Regions from separate parts of the Homo sapiens genome. Here region 1 is linked to region 2. The links come from fine-mapping of genetic effects on plasma protein levels. A gene starts in region 2. The other region holds a variant in brackets. All regions are shown on one strand. Distances are between the middles of the regions.

Region 1 (4,407 bases), 14 kb before region 2:
ATTTTTGTTGTTTTGTTTTTGAGATAAGGCTTACTCTGTTGCCCAGGCTGGAGTGCAGTGGTGCAATCATGGCTTCACTGCCCCTTCAACCTCCTGGGCTCAAGTGATCCTCCTGCCTCAGCCACCTGAGTAGCTGGGATTACACATGTGCACCACCATGCCCAGCTAGTTTTTTTGTAGAGACAGGGAGGGTCTCAGTTTGTCGCCCTGACTGGTCTCAAACTCTTGACCTCAAGCTCTTCTCTCACATCAGTCTCCCAAAGTGTTGGGATTACAAGTGTGAGCCACTGCACTTTACCCTACTATTGTTTTTAAAGCCAATCAATTCCTTCAGGTATAGTTTTAGAGTGGGGCAATGGTATACATTTAAACGTTTGATTTTAAATCCACCTGTTCCCAAACTTTCATCAGAAACTTGGTACCCATTAATACTTCTTTAAGTGGTATATTAGAGCTTGTTTTTGGCGATAAATCATTTCTTATTGCCTGGGATAGTCTGGAGAAGATATTGCTGTGACTATCAAAGTGATTTTTTTGTTTTGAATTAGGTTACAGATTATGCCATTGCCAGGCGCATAGTAGATTTGCATTCAAGAATTGAGGAATCAATTGATCGTGTCTATTCCCTCGATGATATCAGAAGATATCTTCTCTTTGCAAGACAGTTTAAACCCAAGGTAACCTACCCTTTTGTACTGGGATAAGGTATAATGGGTATATTAAAGTGGAATTTAAGTAAGTGTGTTATATGGAAATTAACTGAACCTGTCATCTACCTTAGTTCCTAAATTTTACAACTTTTTTTTTTTTTCTGGAACAGCAATTTGTTTTTTCAGAGAGGGCTGAGAAAGGGAACTGTAAAAAAAATTCTGAATAATTCCATTATTTGTTTGGTGGTAATAAAAAGATTTGTATGGGAGAAGAGTTTTGGATAACTGGATAATCTAGAACATTCTTTTATTTCAAACATTACTAAGAACGTTAAAATTGTTTATGCGCCTAAATCAATAGTTGAATCTTTCTTTGAAGGAAACATTGGATTCATCTAGGCCATTATGATAAATATAAATTACTGTTTTACAGTGATTGATGCATTGTATTGGACTAACTCTGTTCTGGACCCAGGATTCTTACCTGGACATAAACCCCCAAATGCTTGGCATTTTCCCAAAATAGGGTATGAAAAGGAAAAAAAATACTCATTCTGGTTGAGATTTTCACACTGTTGGCTAACTTGACTTCTGGAAGGTGTTACTAGGTATTGATCATTTATCATCTTCACTTGATTATTCATGAGATTGCAGTTGGCTCTCACTGTCCCAAAGAAATTTAATCATTTAAAACTAAGGATTATGGGTGATTCTTGTGTAAAAAAGAGCATCTGTTCTCCATTACTGCATACTGATATACTGATCCCTCTGTAACCTTGGCATGCTTCCTTAATATGGTGAATTCCTTGCTCTGAAAAGCTGAGGATCCTTTAGATATAAAGTTTATTGAAACAGCTTTTTTTTCCCTGCAAAGAGTGTGAGTTAATTAATTGAGCCTCAAATACTGAGCATTAATTTATTTAATGAGCACTGACATCCTGAGGTGTAAAAGACATTACATCTTGTTCCATTGCTTCAGCTTGTTAAGCAGCTTTTAGAAATGGTCATTTGCTTAAATACTAAGCCTTTTTTCAGGTTCATAAAATTAGTAACATGGAATTCACAAGCCTCCTTAATATTAGTTTCTTTTGAAAGACATTACAATAGTAATTTATTGTCACTGGCTTCTCAAAGTTTCAACCCTCTCAGGTTCCCTAAATGTTTCCACCTGGAAGGCTCTTAAACTTAGGTTTACCGTAGCTCTCATCAAATAGAAATGTTTCTCTAACTTGAGTGATGATCTGAAACAGATTTCCAAAGAGTCAGAGGACTTCATTGTGGAGCAATATAAACATCTCCGCCAGAGAGATGGTTCTGGAGTGACCAAGTCTTCATGGAGGATTACAGTGCGACAGCTTGAGAGCATGATTCGTCTCTCTGAAGCTATGGCTCGGATGCACTGCTGTGATGAGGTATCAGAGTCACTTTGATATGATGAGAGCAGAGATAAACAGATTTGTTGCATGTTTTTAATCTTTGGTATGGGACATACTAGAATTCACTGCAAATACATTTTTATGTAACTGTTGAATGCTCATACGACCATGGAATTCTTCCCTTTAAAGAGCTTGGTAAGCATTTGAGTGTAGTTGTTAGACGGAGACGATCACGTCATAGTTTATAGAGTGCATAAAGACGTAAGTTACCATTTAATACCTTTCATTCAGGAAAAATGTACTTAGACCCTACAATGTACTAGTAGGCCTCTGCGCTGGCAATACAGATAAGATAATGTAG[C/T]CCCTGGCCTCAAAGGAACTCTCCTCCTTAGGTTGCATTTGTATAATGTTTGATTTTTAGATTGTTCTTTGAGCCCTGCATTCCACGAGGATAGGTCAGTGGGTATTAACGAGGTAAAAGGGGAGTAGTACGAAAGGGCATTCAAGCGTCCCATCTTCGCTTCAACCAAAGCAGCCCTGCGTTTTCCTAGTTTTATTAATAGGTTTGATGTAAGGTCGTCTTTGAAAAGGGGGTTTGGCTTTTTTTTACAGTGTGACTGAGGTATAATTTATAAAAAGGGAAATGTATGGCATGGTGAGTTTTTTCACATACATCCTTGTGAATACCCAGCTCAAGATCCAAAACATTTCCATAATTTCAGAAAGTTCCAAACCCCTGCCTCTTTTCAGTCTTAGCCCTCTTCCCCTGAAGTAACCACTGTTCCGACTTCAATCACTACTTTTATCCCACAGGTTAATTTTTTGGCTTTTTTCCACTAAATTTTCAAATTCTTTGATATGGTACTTTACTATTGACGAAGTACTTTCACACTAGGTTATTTAATATTCTTTGATTCACCCAATATTTAGGGAACACCTGTAGGGGACAAAAAATGAATGAGAGCCCCTGCCTTCCATTGCTGCTAATCTGGTGGGAACGAGACATGTATTTAATTAAGCATGTAAAAAATAGAGTGGGTGATGAAATAATCTATATACTAAATCCCCATGACACACAGTTTACCTATGTAACAAACCTGCATGTGTACCCCCGAACCTAAAATATAAGTTGGAAATTAAAAAAAAACGAGAGGGAGAATAGAGCATCACAACCAGAGTGCTGAGATGAATTACTTTATTACCAAAGAAGGAGGAGGACTCAGGGAGGTGCCGACGTTTAAACCCAGTCACTGAAGGGTGTGCAGAATTTGGATAGGCAAGATACCCTGGGACAAGGTCATTCTAAAACCATGCTAACATTTGTACTTTTTTTTTCATTGTGATAGTTCCTGAAATGAGTTGCATAAAACTGGTACATGTCTTAGGGCAGTCTCTAATTGATTTTTATTTTGTTCTATTTTTAAAAATTAGTCTTCAAATAGCAGATTCACATGATATTAAAATATATGCACATAAATTATATACACAAATATATTTTCTGAATGAAATTTAGTATCTGCATATATTTAAGAGCTATTTCTGTCTCATATGTTCATAATCTTCATCCATTAAAAAAACTTTTGTTAGGCCTTTCTCACTCTAAGATTATAAAAAATTCTCCCATTATTTACCTAGCTAGTTTTCTAGTTGTTCCAAAACCATTTATTGAACAATCCATCTTTTTGACACTGGTTTGGCATGCCTTAATTATATATTCTTGTGTGTGTTAGGATCTCCTTTTGGACTTTCCATTCTGTTCATTGAGTCTTATCAGCTCCTCTTACATTGGTACCATGATGTTTTAATCTATGGGGCTTTGTAGTTTAAATGTAGGGCTAGTTCCAGCGCATTGTTCTCTATCAGCTGTTAGGAACTTAGAAATCAGCTTGCTCTGTTTTAAAGAAAAACCTGGTATTTTTTTATCAGTATAACATTCTATTTATATTAACTTGAAGAATTGAAAACATCTATGATTTTTCCTATTCAGTAACGTATCACTTAGAATAGGTTAGGTTGTACTACTATAAAATCTCAGCTGCATAAAACAATTTTTTTTTGCTTGTGCTACACATCCATTAGGTCATCAAGGGACTCACCTTGTCAAGTTACTCAGAGATTCAGGCTGATATAAAGGTTTGATCTTGACATACGCTTTCATGATGACAGAAAGCAGGGAAGAGAAGGTGGTGAGCCATGTGCTTTCTCCCCCTTCTATCCAGAAATGACACATACTCACATTTCATTCGCCAGAGAAATTAACATGGCCCCTCCTAAGTTCAAATGGATAGAGAAATGCCTTCCTACCAGGTGCCCAGAATTAGAAGAGCAAACATTTGTGAACAGTTCTGAGTACCACAAATACCGTTATCTTTCCACTTAAG
Region 2 (4,407 bases):
AAAAACAGACACTATAAACCAAATTAAAAGATGGGAAAATTTTTCTATCACGTTTTAATATGTGATATCCAAACTCCCATTAAGAATTTTTATATCAGTAATAAGATAAAACTCAGAAGAAAAATGCCCAATTAACAAGAAGAGCTTCACCTCTTAAATAATCAGAAAAAGAAAAGCACATAATATTTACGTCAAAGTATCAAAAATGTAAAAGTTTTATAATAGGCATTAGCAAGGCAGACGGATACAGGCACACATCTAACTCTATGTAGGATTTAACTTGGAAGACAATTTGCATTTCAATCAATCAAAAACCATTTTTTTTTTTGAGATGATCTCCCTGTGTTGCCCAGACTGGCCTCAAGCTCCTGGGCTTGAGCAGTCCTACAGTCTGAGCCTCCAAAAGTACTGGCAAAACAGGCGTGATTGACCATGCCCAGCCTGTATATAAGGATATTCATTTGCAGCATTGTTTGCAACACAAAAATGTAAAACCAACCGGTGTTTAATATGCAAGATGTTAATTTATGGTACATTCTTGCTGTGGAAAGCTATGCATCTGTTAGAGGTGGGTCTATATGTTCTGATACAGGCAGAACTCTAAGAGCTATTAAGTGAAGAAAAGGCTGAAAATACATATGGCATAATTCCATATATGTTAAATTGTTCTATATTTTAAATGTTATACACGTTTCCATTTGTATTTACGTAATAATAATGATCCCTGAGCTGTACTGTTGTATACATGCTACAAGAAAGACCCATTTAATCCCCACAGCCTATGATGAATTATCCACATTCTACAGGTGACAAAATAGAGGCACAAAGTTAAGTAATTTTTGTCAGGTGAGATTTAAACCCAGGCATTCTGACTCCTGTATAACCATTAAGATATGCAGAGAAAGAAAACTGGAAAGATACATATTGCTGAAGATACTTATTATAGGAAGAGGAGGGGGGAGGGTGAAGGAATTTGCAAGTTTTTCATAGATGTTTCCATATTGTTTGAATCTCTTACAAAATATGTTCAGCATATTTTTAAAGAGAAAATTTGGGGCAAAATACTTATTTTTGTATTATGTAAACAAATTTTAAAATAATGTGTGGCTGGGTGCGCTGGCTCACACCTGTAATCCCAACACTTTAGGAGGCTGAGGCAAGAGGATTGCTTGAGCCCAGGAGTTCAAGACCAGCCTGGGTGACATGGCAAAACTCCATCTCTACTAAAAATACAAAAAATTAGCCAGTCGTGGTGGCGCACACCTATGGTCCCACCTACCCAGGATGCTGAGATGGGAGGATCACTTGAGCCCAGGAAGTCAAGGCTGCAGGAAGCTGTGATCGCACCACTGCACTCCCACCTGGGCAACAGAGTGAGACCCGGTCACCAAAAAACAAAAAAAACAAAAAAAATTGGTAATCGTTTTCTTCAGACATTTTCCGGGTTCCTCTGCTTAACTTGTATAGGAAGTCTGAGGTTTTTGTGTTGGTCTTTACCTTTTTTTTTTTTTTTTTTTTTTAAGATGGAGTCTCATTCTGTTGCCCAGGCTGGAGTGCAGTGGCATGATCTTGGCTCCTGCAACCTCCGCCTCCTGGGTTCAAGTGATTCTCCTGCCTCAGCCTCCTGAGTAGCCGGGACTACAGGCGCATGCCACGATGCCTGGCTAATTTTTTGTATTTTTAGTAGAGATGGGGTTTCACCATGTTAGCTAGGACGGTCTCGATCTCCTGACCTCGTGATCCGCCCACCTCGGCCTCCCAAAGTGCTGGAATTACAGGTGTGAGCCACCACGCCCGGCCCTGATCTTTACATTTTTAAATATTGCATTAGTGAACCGTGTACTGATTTTGTGATCATAGATAACCCAGTTAAATATTAAGTCTTAATTATCACTTAGTATTTTACAACCTCAGTTGCAGTTATAAAGTAAGGGTTCCACATACCTCCTAACAGTTCCTAGAAAATGGAGCTGTCTTGGCATGTAGTCTTTATTGCCCTGCTAAGTTTTTCATGCTGGGGGTCAGACTGGGAGTCTGATAGAAATTTCATTTCCACCGCTGGTCCTCTAACCAATGACTTGCTGCACAACCTGAGTGGTCTCCTGGGAGACCAGAGTTCTAACTTTGTAGCAGGGGACAAAGACATGTATGTTTGTCACCAGCCACTGCCCACTTTCCTGCCAGAATACTTCAGCAGTCTCCATGCCAGTCAGATCACCCATTATAAGGTATTTCTGTCATGGGCACAGCTCCTCCCAGCAGGAAGCACCCAGAATCCAGACGAGAAAACAGTGCAGTGCTACCGGCGACTCCTCAAGGCCCTCAAGACTGCACGGCTTCAGCCCATGGTCATCCTGCACCACCAGACCCTCCCTGCCAGCACCCTCCGGAGAACCGAAGCCTTTGCTGACCTCTTCGCCGACTATGCCACATTCGCCTTCCACTCCTTCGGGGACCTAGTTGGGATCTGGTTCACCTTCAGTGACTTGGAGGAAGTGATCAAGGAGCTTCCCCACCAGGAATCAAGAGCGTCACAACTCCAGACCCTCAGTGATGCCCACAGAAAAGCCTATGAGATTTACCACGAAAGCTATGCTTTTCAGGGTGAGTACACATTGACCTGATGGTGACCCCTCGGCAACCTTCATCACACACCTTCCCCATCCTCCTTAGAGCAGATTCGACATTTCTCCCAACTCACCTTCAGCAGTCCTCTTATGTCTGTGCATAGGGAGAAATTAATATTGTAAATTGATTTCCCACTGGCGATAGGAAGGGGTAGCTAACATGGCAAAACACTCAGCATTTCCTTTGAAAAATATCTTTGAGGCTCACGCCTGTAATCCTAGCACTTTGGGAGGCCGAGGTGGGCGGATCACTTGAAGTCAGGAGTTCGAGACCAGCCTGGCCAATATGGCAAAACCCCGTCTCTACTAAAAATACCAAAATTAGCCAGGGATGGTAGCAGGCGCCTGTGATCCCAGCTACTCGGGAGGCTTAGGCAGGAGAATTGCTTGAACCCAGGAGGCAGATGTTGCAGTGAGCCGAAATCATGCCACTGTACTACAGCCTGTGCGACAGAGCAAGACACAATCTCAAAAAAAAAAAATATGTATACATATATATATATATATATATATATATATATATATATATACACACATGTATTTTTGAAATACCCCTTGCCCAGTCTTGAGTTGTGCAAGCACTGATTGTCTTTCTGTCTTCCTTTCCGTCTATGTCCTGCTACCCTGACTTGGAGGCAAAGTTTCGTGGTTTCCTGTCCTTCCCCCTCGGCTCCCCTATACTTACATGTCTTAGTTGGAGCTTACATTGCAGCTTGGGAGACAGACAAATACAAGATGAAACAATTATATATCACAGGATGAGGAGAGCACAACTGTAACTGTTCACATTCCTGCCTCCTAGGGGACTTGAAGTTCTGATCTGTAGGCCTAGGCTGAACCAGGACATTTGTGATTATAATCAATTCCCTAAGTGTATGTTAGGTACACCAATTTTGAGAATCAATTTTGGATTATATATGCTTTCTTGTTTTTATTATATACCATATACATACATATTTGTATATATAGTACCTGATATATATATATATATATATATATATATATATATATATATATATATATACTTCTATGTTCTACTTTTTCATTTTAACATAGTTTATGACTATATTCTCATTTTATTAAAAACTTGAGCCAGGCATGGTGGCTCATGCCTATAATCCCAGCACGTTAGGAGGCCAAGGCAGGGGGATTGCTTGAGGCCAGGAGTTGGAGACCAGCCTGGGCAACATAGAGAGCCACTATCTCTAAAATAATATAATAATTTACTCCAGTGCTGGAATAGTATTGCTTAAAACAAAAGAAAAACTTGAAAGCATAACTTTCAATGGTCTTTTAGGTTCCCATTGTATAAATGGAGCATAAAGTTTAAGGTATTTTCCTTATTTTTGTATGTTTATTCTAATTTTCACTAGTTACAAGTTATGTTGCAATGACATTCCTATCTATAAACTATTTCCCACCTTCTGATAAATTCTTTCTGACAGAATCTTAGAATTGAAACTACTAGGTGAAAAGATCTGCATTCTTTAAGATTTTAAAGCATGGTACTAAATTATTTTCCAGAAAAGTTGTAATCATTTATACGAACAGTTATAAAATTACTCTCTGACCCCATTCTGTCAGTTTCAAATGCTATATTTTATTACTAATTTGACAGCTGAAAACAGCTTATTTTCATGTCTTGTTAATTTGCATGTATTTGATTATAGAGACGTTAAACATTTTTTTCTTCTTCTTTTTTTTTTTTTTTTTTTTTTTGAGATGGAGTCTCACTCTTTTGTCCAGGCTGGAGTGCAGTGGTGTGATCTCGGCTCACTGC

The links. A credible set is the group of variants that fine-mapping cannot tell apart. PIP is the posterior inclusion probability: the model's chance that the variant is causal. Sun 2018 read protein levels with aptamers (SomaScan).
Region 1: its variant is the best candidate, but not a certain one, in a credible set for the plasma level of the LCT protein (Sun 2018, PIP 0.51).

What each region holds. Positions count from the first base shown.
Region 1 is chr2:135,849,057-135,853,463 of GRCh38, reverse strand. MCM6 (minichromosome maintenance complex component 6) reads left to right here. Exons shown (of 17, transcript NM_005915.6): 12 at 549-677; 13 at 1,901-2,062. Among named protein-coding and RNA genes, the nearest start is that of LCT, 14 kb to the right of the region's middle. The variant C/T (reference allele first, on the strand shown) is at 2,388.
Region 2 is chr2:135,834,727-135,839,133 of GRCh38, reverse strand. LCT (lactase) reads left to right here and starts at 1,950. Exons shown (of 17, transcript NM_002299.4): 1 at 1,950-2,604. The coding sequence starts at 1,965.